Linked DNA regions of Homo sapiens. The protein of the gene in region 3 interacts with the protein of the main gene of each other region in a pairwise test. Each region holds a gene or a part of one and is shown on either strand. Other genes may lie near its edges.

The links.
Region 1: the proteins of NBL1 (region 3) and NCALD interact in binary tests that used the Homo sapiens proteins (3 or more experiments, as listed by UniProt).
Region 2: the proteins of NBL1 (region 3) and HPCAL1 interact in binary tests that used the Homo sapiens proteins (3 or more experiments, as listed by UniProt).

What each region holds. Positions count from the first base shown.
Region 1 is NC_000008.11:101,784,281-101,788,030, reverse strand, and holds part of NCALD (neurocalcin-delta), read left to right. Parts: intron 1-1,978; exon of another isoform or gene 1,979-2,176; intron 2,177-3,750. UniProt on the Homo sapiens protein: May be involved in the calcium-dependent regulation of rhodopsin phosphorylation. Binds three calcium ions.
Region 2 is NC_000002.12:10,417,810-10,421,559, reverse strand, and holds part of HPCAL1 (hippocalcin-like protein 1), read right to left. Parts: exon of another isoform or gene 3,095-3,750; intron 1,827-3,094; 5' UTR 1,803-1,826; coding exon 1,425-1,802; intron 1-1,424. UniProt on the Homo sapiens protein: May be involved in the calcium-dependent regulation of rhodopsin phosphorylation.
Region 3 is NC_000001.11:19,647,161-19,650,910, reverse strand, and holds part of NBL1 (neuroblastoma suppressor of tumorigenicity 1 isoform 2 precursor), read right to left. Parts: intron 3,302-3,750; exon of another isoform or gene 3,241-3,301; intron 1-3,240. UniProt on the Homo sapiens protein: Possible candidate as a tumor suppressor gene of neuroblastoma. May play an important role in preventing cells from entering the final stage (G1/S) of the transformation process.

The DNA.
Region 1 (3,750 bases), on a different chromosome or scaffold from region 3:
CAGTCTTATGTCCCCTGGATTGGGAAACCCTTACCTGGTTAGACAGGGGTTAAGAGGAAAACTCATAGTGTTAGTACAAGTTATGCGAGTTAAAACCATGGGCCACAGAAGGTAGTTCATGTGCTCATAGCATTTGAAGCAAGCATTAAAGAATGCATGTGGCTTTCCAGCTTAATGTAAAGCACATACACGTGTGAATTGATCAATTGTCATGTTAATTCCAGATACTCAAGAGAGAGCCCTAAAGGTTTATCTGACAGAGGTCTCTAGGATGAGGCATGTTTGAAATTAAGCTGGAAGTGGAGACACTTCCCAAGTATCTGAATGCAGAACCTTATTTGGCTTATTGGATATTTAAGACCAATACAGGGGGTATTAATAGTATTGTTTAGTGTGACTTATGTAAGTAGTTGTCTCATTCAACATGTTTCTTTAAATGTGCAGAAAATAGTGCCTGATATTCCTCTCCAAACCAACAGCGTAACTTTGCAGTTGGTCAGCTGCCGTCACAGCCCTATATTCAGAATGTCCAAAGTCATCCTTTCTATGACATCAACACCCACTGTCTCCGCGTAAGAGAATGGGAGCTATGACATTTTGCACAAGCTGTTGTTTAAATTCAATCCAAATCCCTCGCATTTGAAATGGAAGCTTAGCAATTTGTCTTCGTGTGTTCTCAAAGGAATTACGAAAGAGATGTTCTCAAACGTTTCTTATTCTTTGGATTAGAAAAGAACACTTGCCTTGGGAGCTTTGAGTCTCTAGCAACTTGATAAAGAAACTTGGAAAAAGTTTAAAATCTCTGACTCCAGGCTGTACTGTTTGCTTCTCAAGCCAGGTGTTTGAAACTTTTCAAAAAGGAATGTGCCATTATTTTTCATAAAATCCACATTTATTTAACTGGTGCTTCATGATGGAAATCTAACTAGAAATAGCATTCCAAAATGTAGTATTTTTTATTGTTTTCAGAAGTGATACCATAAAAGTTAATGTTCACTAAGATTTTGATATAAAAATTATATGATAAATATTGAAATTCACTGGAGCCAAACTAAAAACAGTCTGCCCTTTTTATCTCAGTAGTGAACTTTAGGGGGTTTTTTGCATGTATTTTCATAAGTGCCTTTAAATAAAGACACGGCATCCCTTTAAAATTTAGTTTACATTAATGTAAACCAGAATATTCTCAGGTCACAATGCAGTTTTATATTTGATTTGTAGGAAATAAATCTCTAGCCTGAAAGACATTCCAGCTGTTGCCTGTCTTCATGGGAGGATTGTTCACATTTTCTGAATCTCTCCCAGTGACTGCAGGAAGACCAAAGGCTGCACATTGCTTTTATGCAAGGATGAATTTTTTTAAAAGATGATTTTGGATTTTGTTTGCTTTAATGAATTTAAGCCCTATCTATTAGAGGTAAATGTCAAGAAAACTGTTGTGTTCTTTGGCTATCTGCTCTGCTGACTCCCACAGACTTTGATATGATTCATATAACTCAAACCATGATCAGGTTTGTGACGACCATATTTACAATATCGTTGGAGATCAAAAATAGCATCTCACAAAAGTTTCCCCGTCCTATACCTTCCCACATCTTATCATGGATCATGTGCAGCACAGTCACTCAATTGGCGAACATTTATTAACGGACTACTGCATTCACAGTATTATAGTAGGCATGTGAGGTCCTCCCCTGATGGGATCCTCAAGTGAGATATGCTGCTGGCATAGAGAACCCAAGGGCCTTTATGGACCCTGGCTTTTGTTTGCTTGAGCTTTTATTCAAACATTCAGTCTTTCATGCATTCAGCAAATTTTGAGCACATACTACGTGTCAGGCATTGAGCCAGACCCCAGGGTTGCTATAAGGTACAAGACAGGGCAGGTCCCTTCCATCATGGAATATGCAGTCTAACTATGTAGAGAACTTGCCCAGAGACCTATATGTACTATTAACTGGGGTTCTCTTTCCCACAGCCACACTGGCCACTGCAGTCCAAAAGAGAATTCTAAAAGGAAACAGTACAAAACAGAACATCAAAACAAAACAGACAAACAACCTGGGAACCATTAGGTTTTACACCAGAGTGAAACCCCAGAAGAGACATTCTGCAGCTGGTGAACAGCCGGCCTCATTTGTGAGCAATCTGTTCCCATCAGTGTCAGGGATTCCAGGTCGGTATGCTCAGTCCTATTCCCAGTTGGCCAGAGGCTATTTGTCCTCTAGTTCAGAAGACAAATGAGACTGGTAGGGACCGACCTAGAGAGTATTTTCTTTTATGCAAATACCCTGTTTCATACAAATAATGAAAACCATTGTATTTTATGAAAGGAGTCTTTAAATTAGTGATATTTCCAAAAATATCTCTCCCGTCTTCCCTGTACTAACCCAGTCAGGACAGGGTCACTGCTGTAATAAATAGCCCCCAATCTTAATGGCATAATCCAACACTGTTCATTTTTCACTCACCCAGAAATCAGGATTGGGCGAAGGGCTCTGCTCCACACAGTCCTCCAGGGACTCAGGCTCCTTCTATCTAGTTAAACTGATCAGGGGCCTGTTTCTACCACTTGCTAGTGATACTCTGAGCAAGTTACCTAAATCAGAGTTTTCTTATGTGAATAATATTAGGGCATCCCTCTTGGATTTTTGAGTCAATTTACTTGGCATAGAAACTGACAGGTATTAGGTACTCAATAATGTGAACTGCTGTTATTAATCTTCTACTTCTGGTAGTGCTGCCACCACCATCCCCCGAGGAGGCAGGAAGAATCCGTCAGAATTGGAAGAGTATTATAATAATAGCTAACACTTAGGAAGCTGGATAGTCTTCAAAGTTCTTTTCAAAGTAACTATTTTTTAACAACATTCTAGTTTTATAAATGAGGAAATTGAGGCACAGAGAGCTTAAACAAATTGCTGAGTGTCACACAAGTATACAATAGAGCTCTAGGCATTTGGCTTCAGAGTCCTGGCTCTTTATTCACTATACTATATTGCCTTTCAACTTGGAATATACAGCAGAGCCTCAAATACCGTCATTTCATTCAACATCGTTTTGTTGTAATGTTAATGAGAAAAAATAATTGGTTTTGTTGTCAATGATGTTGTGAGGACTTACTATTATATATTGTATTTTCCCCAGAATTAATGTTATATGTTGTGGCAGATTGTATTCAAAAATAGCCTTACAATTGAATCCATTACCACATTAAAAAAATTTTTTTTTAGAGATGGGTTCTCACTCTGTTGCCCAGGCTGAAGTGCAGTGGTGTAATCATAGCTCACTGTAACCTCAAACCTGGGCTCAAGCAATCATCCCACCTCAGCTGCTTGAGTAGCCAGGACTATAGGCGTATGCCACCATGCCCAGCTAAATTTTTGTTTTTATTTTTATAGACTTGGGGTCTCACTATGTTGCCCAGGCTGGTCTTGAACTCCTGTCCTCAAGAGATCCTCCCACCTTGGCTTCCCAAAGGGCTGAGATTACAGGCATGAGCCACTGCATTACCATATGTTCTTCTAGAATCTTGCTCCTCTCCATCAGGAGGTGAAGTCTATTGCCCCTCCCTTTGAACCTAAATGGGCTTATGATTGGTCCAACTGATAGAGTACAGTGGAAATAATGCTAGGTGACTTCCAAGGATAGATCATAAAAAGAATACAATTTTTTTCTCTCTTGCTATTCTTTTTCTTCTTGACATTTTCCCTTAGAATCCAGTCACCATATTGTAGGAAACCCAGACCA
Region 2 (3,750 bases), on a different chromosome or scaffold from region 3:
CCTGCTACTCTTTTAATTTTTTATAGAGATGGAGTCTCACTATATTGCCCAGGCTGGTCTCAAACTCCCGGGCTCACGCGATCCTCCAGCCTCGGCCACCCAAAGTGTTGGGATTACAGGCCTGGCCATGAGTTCTAGAATTGGATGCTCCTGGGCTCAGGGAGGCACTCAGGGGAATGCCAGGGAGGGGCAGCTCTGCTCTCTACTCTCTCTCGCATACCTAGGCACCTGGCCAAGTGAACAAAACTTGGTTTCCTTCTGAAACATGGCCTTTCTGCTAGAGCTGTTGATAGGCATGAAGGTGAAGAGATGCCTCCTAAAGTGACGTCTTTCCCGTGCTGAGCTGATTCTCGTGATCGTTAATGCTTCAGTTTTACTTGATGACTGCGCATTCCTGGGGACATCACAAGCTATCTGTTGAGTTCTCAAATCCAGGGCTTTCCCCAGGTCTTGGCAGGTACCTCTTGCAAGTGCCAAGGAGCCCAGCAATCATACAATTCTTGGCCAGGCACGGTGGCCCATGCCTGTAATCCTAGCACTTTGGGAGGCTGAAGGCAGATCAACTGAGGTGAGGAGTTTAAGACTAGCCTGGCCAACATGGTGAAACCTCGTCTCTACTAAAAATACAAAAATTAGCTGGCTGCGGTGGCACATACCTGTAATCCCAGCTACATGGGAGGCTGAGACAGGAGAATCTCTTGAACCCAGGAGGTGGAGGTTGCAGTGAGCCGAGATCATGCCACTGCACTCCAGCCTGGGCGACAAAGTGAGACTCCATCTCCAAATATATATAAAATATAATTTTTAGAAATTCATCTATTTGAGTCTCAGACTTTGTAAAATGCAGAGAATGACCCACGTTGTTGGGTTATGAAGATGAAAACGGATCAAAGTGCTCCACCCGGCCCTGATGTATAGCAAGTGATCAATAAACATTGGCTTTTACCATTGCCCTTTGCAAGGGTCTGCCCAATCAGGTGACAACTGCTCACTTTCCAAAGTGCACCAGGTAGCAACCTGGCCAAGAAAGACCCAATGTCGAGTGAACATAAAGAACACAGGGAGGCCAGGCACGGTGGCTCACACCTGTCATTCTAGCACTCTGGGAGGCTGAGGCGGGCAGATCGCTTGAGCCTAGGAGTTCAAGACCAGCCTGGATAATGTGGCAAAACCCTCTCTCTACCATCAAAAATACCAAAAAAATTAACAGGGCATGGAGGTGCTCAAGAGGCTGAAGCGGAAAAATCACCTGAGCCCAGGAGGCAGAGGTTGCAGTGAGCTGAGATAGTGCCACTGCACTCCAGTCACTAGAGCAAGATTCCTGTCTTAAAAAAAAAAAAAAAAAAAAAAGCCCTGGGCTGGGGGCTGGGAGCTGGGAGGGGACCTGGGCCCGCGGTGAGACCCGGGGCCTCGGGCGCCGGTACCTGCACGATCTCCAGCATCTCGCTGCGGCTGATGTAGCCGTTGCCGTCCAGGTCGTACATGCTGAAGGCCCACTTGAGCTTCTGCTCCAGCTTGCCCCGCGAGGTCACGCTCAGCGCAATGATGAACTCCCGGAAGTCGATGGTGCCGTCGCCGTTGGTGTCGAAGGTGCGGAAGACGTGCTCGGCGAACTTGGAAGCGTCGCCGTAGGGGAAGAAGTTGGCGTAGATCTTCTTGAACTCGTCCACGGTCAGGTGGCCGGTGGGGCAGTCCTTGAGGAAGCCCTTGTACCACTCCTGCAGCTCGTGGTCGGTGAACTCCGTGTTCTCCCGCAGGTCCTGCAGCACCTCGGGCCGCAGCTTGCTGTTCTGTTTGCCCATGGCGGCTGGCGGCGGCGACTACACCTGCAAGACAGGGGGTCAGCCGGGGACGCCACCCACGGCCACGGAGCAGGGCTGAGCCATGTGCCGGAGAGACCAAATAAGCCCATCGCTGTGCAAGCGCTGCGACTCAGCAACTCCCGGGTCCCCCATCGGAAGGCATGCCGCTATCTTATGGACCACCAAGAAGGCCAAGAGACTCTAATTATATCACGACAGCTCACCCTCACACTGCGGGACACGTTCTCACTTGGAGAATGTGGAAATGCGGGGGGGAAAATGCAACTTAAAATCAGTGGAACAGGGCATCATCCGGTGCCCACCAGGGGTTGTACGAGAGGCGAAGATTAAAATCAGTTCTTACTTTCATCCCCCTCATCAGCTCCTGGCAAAGTGGCCACCTCAGCCACATCCCAGACTCTTTGGGGCAGTTCTTCCCTCTTTCAGGCATCACATTATGTTTTTATCTTTAGAAGAGGCGTCTAGAAACTTTCAGGGAGTCACCCCCACCCACCTTCTTTATTTGTTTATTTGTTTGTTTCTTTTGAGATGGAGTTTTGCTCTTGTCGCCCAGGCTGCAGTGCAGTAGCAGGATCACAGCTCACTGTAACCTCCGCCTCCCAGGTTCAAGCAATTCTCCTGCCTCAGCCTCCTGAGTAGCTGGGATTACAGGCATGCACCACCGCGCCCAGCTAATTTTTTGTATTTTTAGTAGAGACAGGGTTTCACCATGTTGGCCAGGCTGGTCTCGAACTCCAGACCTCAGGTGATCCACCTGCCTCGGCCTCCCAAGGTGCTGGGATTACAGGTGTGAGCCACTGTCCCCGGCCCACCCTCTTTATTTTGCCTTTGATAAACTGCCCCGGGTGGGAGGAGGATCTGGAATTAGCTCTAGGCAGTAAATGATGTTCTGAATGGAACCAGGGAAAAATGAGGCACCTGTGGGAACGAGGAACTGCTCTGCTCAAAACCATCCCCCAGGGCGGTTCTCCACAAGTCCTGAATGCAAGACTGATCAACCGGCATTCACACGGCTGCCACTGCACCACCTCATGTTATTTTCTTACATTAACAGTTAACTGATATACAGGGCGTGATAATTTTTGAAGTACATGGAAGAATGAGAAATAAAAAGATGTCTCCTACCCTAGCCACAGTGGCAACCACTTTGAACTCTGTGTTTGTGAATTCTAAACAGTAGGCACCAGCTCTCCATTATGAAAGGTAAGACAGACCACCCACACTGCCCACCACTTCCTTTCTTCTCTGCCTCTATCCCAGGGTTGTTTTTTTTTTTTTTTTTTTTTTTTTGAGATGGAGTCTCACTGTGTTGCCCTTCCAGGCACTTATGAGGAGTGTGCAGTGGTGTGATCTCGGCTCACTGCAACCTCCACCTCCTGGGTTCAAGCAATCCTCCCAACTCAGCCTCCTGAGTAGCTAGGATTATAGGCATGCACCACCACACCTGGCTATTTATTTATTTATTTATTTATGTATTTTTAGTAGAGACAGGGTTTCACACTATGTTGGCCAGGTTGGTCTCAAACTCCTGACCTCAAGTGATTCGCCTGCCTTGGCCTCTCAAAGTGTTAGGAGTATAGGCATAAGCCACCACGCCCAGCCCATCCCAGGTTTTATAGTACATACATGTTTTTGTTTTTACTTATCCTCTCTATATCAATCAATCAATCTATCTATCTATTTTTTATTTATTTATTTTTTGAGACAGGCTCTCACTCTGTCACCCAGGCTGCAGTGTGTGATCATGACTCACTGAAGCCTTGACCTCCGGTGCTCAAGTGATCCTCCCACCTCAGTCTCCTGAGTAGCTGAGACTATGGGCACACACCACCACACCCAGTTAATTTTTTTTTTTTTTGTAGAAACAGGGCCTCACTATTTTGCCCAGGCCAGTCTCAAGCTCCTAGCTTCAAGCAGTCCTCCCACC
Region 3 (3,750 bases):
CAGACACACCTGCCTCCGCCCACCCTCCTGCCCAGCCCCGAAGAGCCCAGGCTGCCCCCACCGGTGGGGTGGGCTCTTGGCTAGCAGGTTTTCTTTTTTTGTTGGTTTATGCTTTTTTGTTGGTTTACGCTTTTTTGTTTTTTCAAGCAGCAACTAATCTATTTTTTTTTTTTAAGCAGCGATCGTACTTTCCTTCCTGAGCCTTGAGAGCCTCACCCAGATTCTCAACCCTTCCTCCCGCCCTGAAGGTCACACAGCAAGTCATGGGACTCCCCAAAAGCGAGGGCGGGAAGGAAAGTTGGAGATCTCCCAGCCAAGTCTCCCTGCTCTGCAAGGGGCTGTCCCAAGGCCCCCAGCAAGTCAGGCAAAGCAATGCCCTGCCCTGGGCCGTTCAGGGCCCTGCAGTTCCACACTCACTCACTTCTAGGAGGGTGGGGAGAAAGGCAAGGGTGAGGGCAGGGAGCTGGGGGCACAGACCCTATGCCCACTCAGACACTCCCCTGAGGGGAGGTCCAGGGATGTGGGTAAATAGGGGGCAGTTGTTTTGAGTTGGCACAGTCAGAGATGGCTCTCAGGAGGGAAGCAGAGGTTCTGAATTCTGAACTAAATATAAGAGCGCAACTATAGTCATGCGTCAGTTAGCCATGGGGATGCACTCTGAGAAATGTGCCATTAGGTGATAGAGTGAACTCAAACCTGAATAGTCTAGGCTATTACAAACCTAGGCTATATGGCATAGCCCATTGCTCCTAGGCTACAAATCTGGACCACATGTGACTGTACTAAATACTGTAGGTCACTGTAACACACACGGAGGCTGAGGCAGGAGAATGGCGTGAACCCGGGAGGCGGAGCTTGCAGTGAGCCGAGATCACGCCACTGCACTCCAGCCTGGGCGACAAAGCGAGACTCTGTCTCAAAGAAAAGAAAAGAAAAGAAAACGTAAAGTAGGCTAAGCATGGTGGCTCACACCTGTAATCCCAGCACTTTGGGAGGCCAAGGTGAGAGAATTGCTTGAGCTCAGGAATTCAAGACCAGCCTGGGCAACATAAGACGATCCCATCTCTACAAAAATTTAAAAACTAGCCAGGTGTGGTGGTGCATGCCTGTGGTCCCAGCTACTTGGGAGGCTGAGGTGAGAGGATCACTCGGTCCTGGGAGGTTGAGGCTGCAGTGAGCCAGGATCATGCCACTACACAATCATGAAAGAAAGAAAAGGTGTAGTAAAAATACAGTATTATAATTCTATGGGAGGCCAGGCGCAGTGGCTCACGCCTGTAATCCCAGCATTTTGGGAGATCGAGGTGGCAGATCACTTGAGGTCAGGAGTTCGAGACCAGCCTGGCCAACATGGCGAAACCCCGTCTCTACTAAAAATACAAAAACTAGCCGGGTGTGGTGGCACATGCCTGTAGTCCCAGCTACTCAGGAGGCTGAGGCAGGAGAATCACTTGAACCCGGGAGGCAGAGGTTGCAGTGAGCCAAGATTGCACCACTGCACTCCAGCCTGGGGGACAGAGCGAGACTTCATCTCAAAATAATAATAATAATAATAATAATAATTTTATGGCAGCACCATTGTGTACGTGGTTCATCATTGTGTGGTGTGTGACTGGATATTAATTTATTCTGTCCTATGATAACTGCCTGATCCTATTCTTTCCCCCATTTTTAGATGAAGAAACTGAGGCACAGAGAGGCCAAGAAATCTGCTTGGGCTTACACTGTTAGTAAACAGGAGAACCGGGATTTGAACCTGGAGGGTAGCAGGTTAACCCCCAGCTACCCTTGCAGGTCAAAAGGTTCACCGAAGAGAAAGAAGCAAGAAACGATGGAATCTGGAGTCAGGATGAGGCCTGGAGCTCCCACCACTGCCCCAGCCGACTGCGCCTCTCATTCCTGTTAACACCCTAGCGTTCAGCCACTGCCTGGACTGGAAGCTTGGGGGCTCCACAGACCAGAGTTCAAATCCCATTCCTGACTCCCTAGCCAACCGTCTTGTGGCCATGGCTGACCCTGGCTCTTGGAGCCCTGGTAAAGGTATGTGTGACACGATCCTCCCTCATGGGGGCGCCGTGAGGCTTTAAAGGAGGTGTCCTTGGCACAGGTGAGTGTCTTCCCAACCCCACCCACCCGCCACTCCCAAATCCAAGCCCTCCACTTCCTCAGCGGCCCTCTGCCAATGCCTGGTACATTCTGAGCTGCCGCCCACACAGAAAGGAAATTCCCCAGGAGGTGACAACAGCAGACCCATTTTGGCACCGTGGAAACTGAGGCACAGGTCAAGGAAGTGACCCACCCGTAGCTCCCACTCCGGGGAAGAGGGCAGGGAACAAACACAGCAGCCCTGCCCTGGTTGCTTTCCTGAAAGTCTTGGTCCAGAGGGTCCCCCAGGAAGGCCAGCTCCGGGGTCAGGCCTGTGACACCTCTTTCCTGAGATGCCTGCCAAAACTGAGACGCCGGGGCCCGGCCCTCCTCGTGTGACCCCGCCAGGTATGAGGCACGGCCTGGGCACCTGAATGTGCTCCCCACGGGACTCTGAGGCCCAGCCAGGCCAGGAGCAACGGCCTCCCAGCCCCCAGGAAAGGGGCTTCGATTAACAACGCTGCCACTGAGGCCCCCCAGCCCACTGCCTGGATTCCGGTACCTGGAAAGGCATCCTAAATGCACCCTAAATACACAGGAGTGGCCTAGATTTCAAGGAACACTTACTTCTTCCTGACTCCCGCCCACCGTGAAACCCTTTGTAGAGTGGATTAGCTTTGGTATAACAAGTGAACCATCCTCCCCAATTCCTCTTCTGGGTTAAGTCTGAATATTCAAGGTCACTCAAGGCCAGATATACCAGGATTTTCAAGGTAGAGTGTATCCACTCACCCCAGACCCACACACACACAAAAGCAGGCATACCCCAAACCACCTGTGCCCCCTATGAACGCAGAACACACAGACGCATATATAAGCATGCCTATATATGCACAAGAAAATGTACATCCGCACAAGCACGCACACACACGCGCGCACACGCACACACACACACACACGCACACACACACACACCAGGCCTTTCCTGTTACCGGTTCCAGCAACCACTCGGTGCAGAGCCGTGGAGGGCAGGGCTGACAAATCCTCGGTGGAAAGGGCAGGGCTCTCCCTCCCCATCTTCACCTCCTGCTTCCAGAACCTCCTCGGGGAACCTCCCCACACTTGGCCCCAGCTGATGGAGACGGACGATTCTACCTGTGGGCTCAGCATTCAGGTGACACCACAGTCCGCATGCACAACGAGCACGCAGCGTTTGTGGCTGGTGGCTTTCAAACCAGATGCTCCCCCTCCCCTGCCTCTCCCACCTTTCCTCTCCCCCCACACTCACTAAGGGCAGGGTCTGGCTCTCCTCCTCCATTCTCCACAATTATGACAGACTGGGGTTCAAATCTTAGCTCAGCCATTCTAATCTTTCTCTTTTTATCTTTATGTTTTTATTTGTAACAGGATCTCACTCTGTTACCCAGGCTGGAGCGCGGTGGCACAATCATAGCTCACATCAGCCTCAAACTCTGGGGCTCAAGTGATCCTCCCACCTCAGCCTCCAGAATAGCTGGTGGTACAGGCATACACCACCATGCCCAGCTAATTTTTTTGTATTTTTTGAAGAGACAAGGTCTCCCTTTGTTGACCAGGCTGGTCTTGAACTCCCACTTCAGCCTCCCAAAGCACTAGGATCACTTGGCCCCATTCTAACCTTTCTGT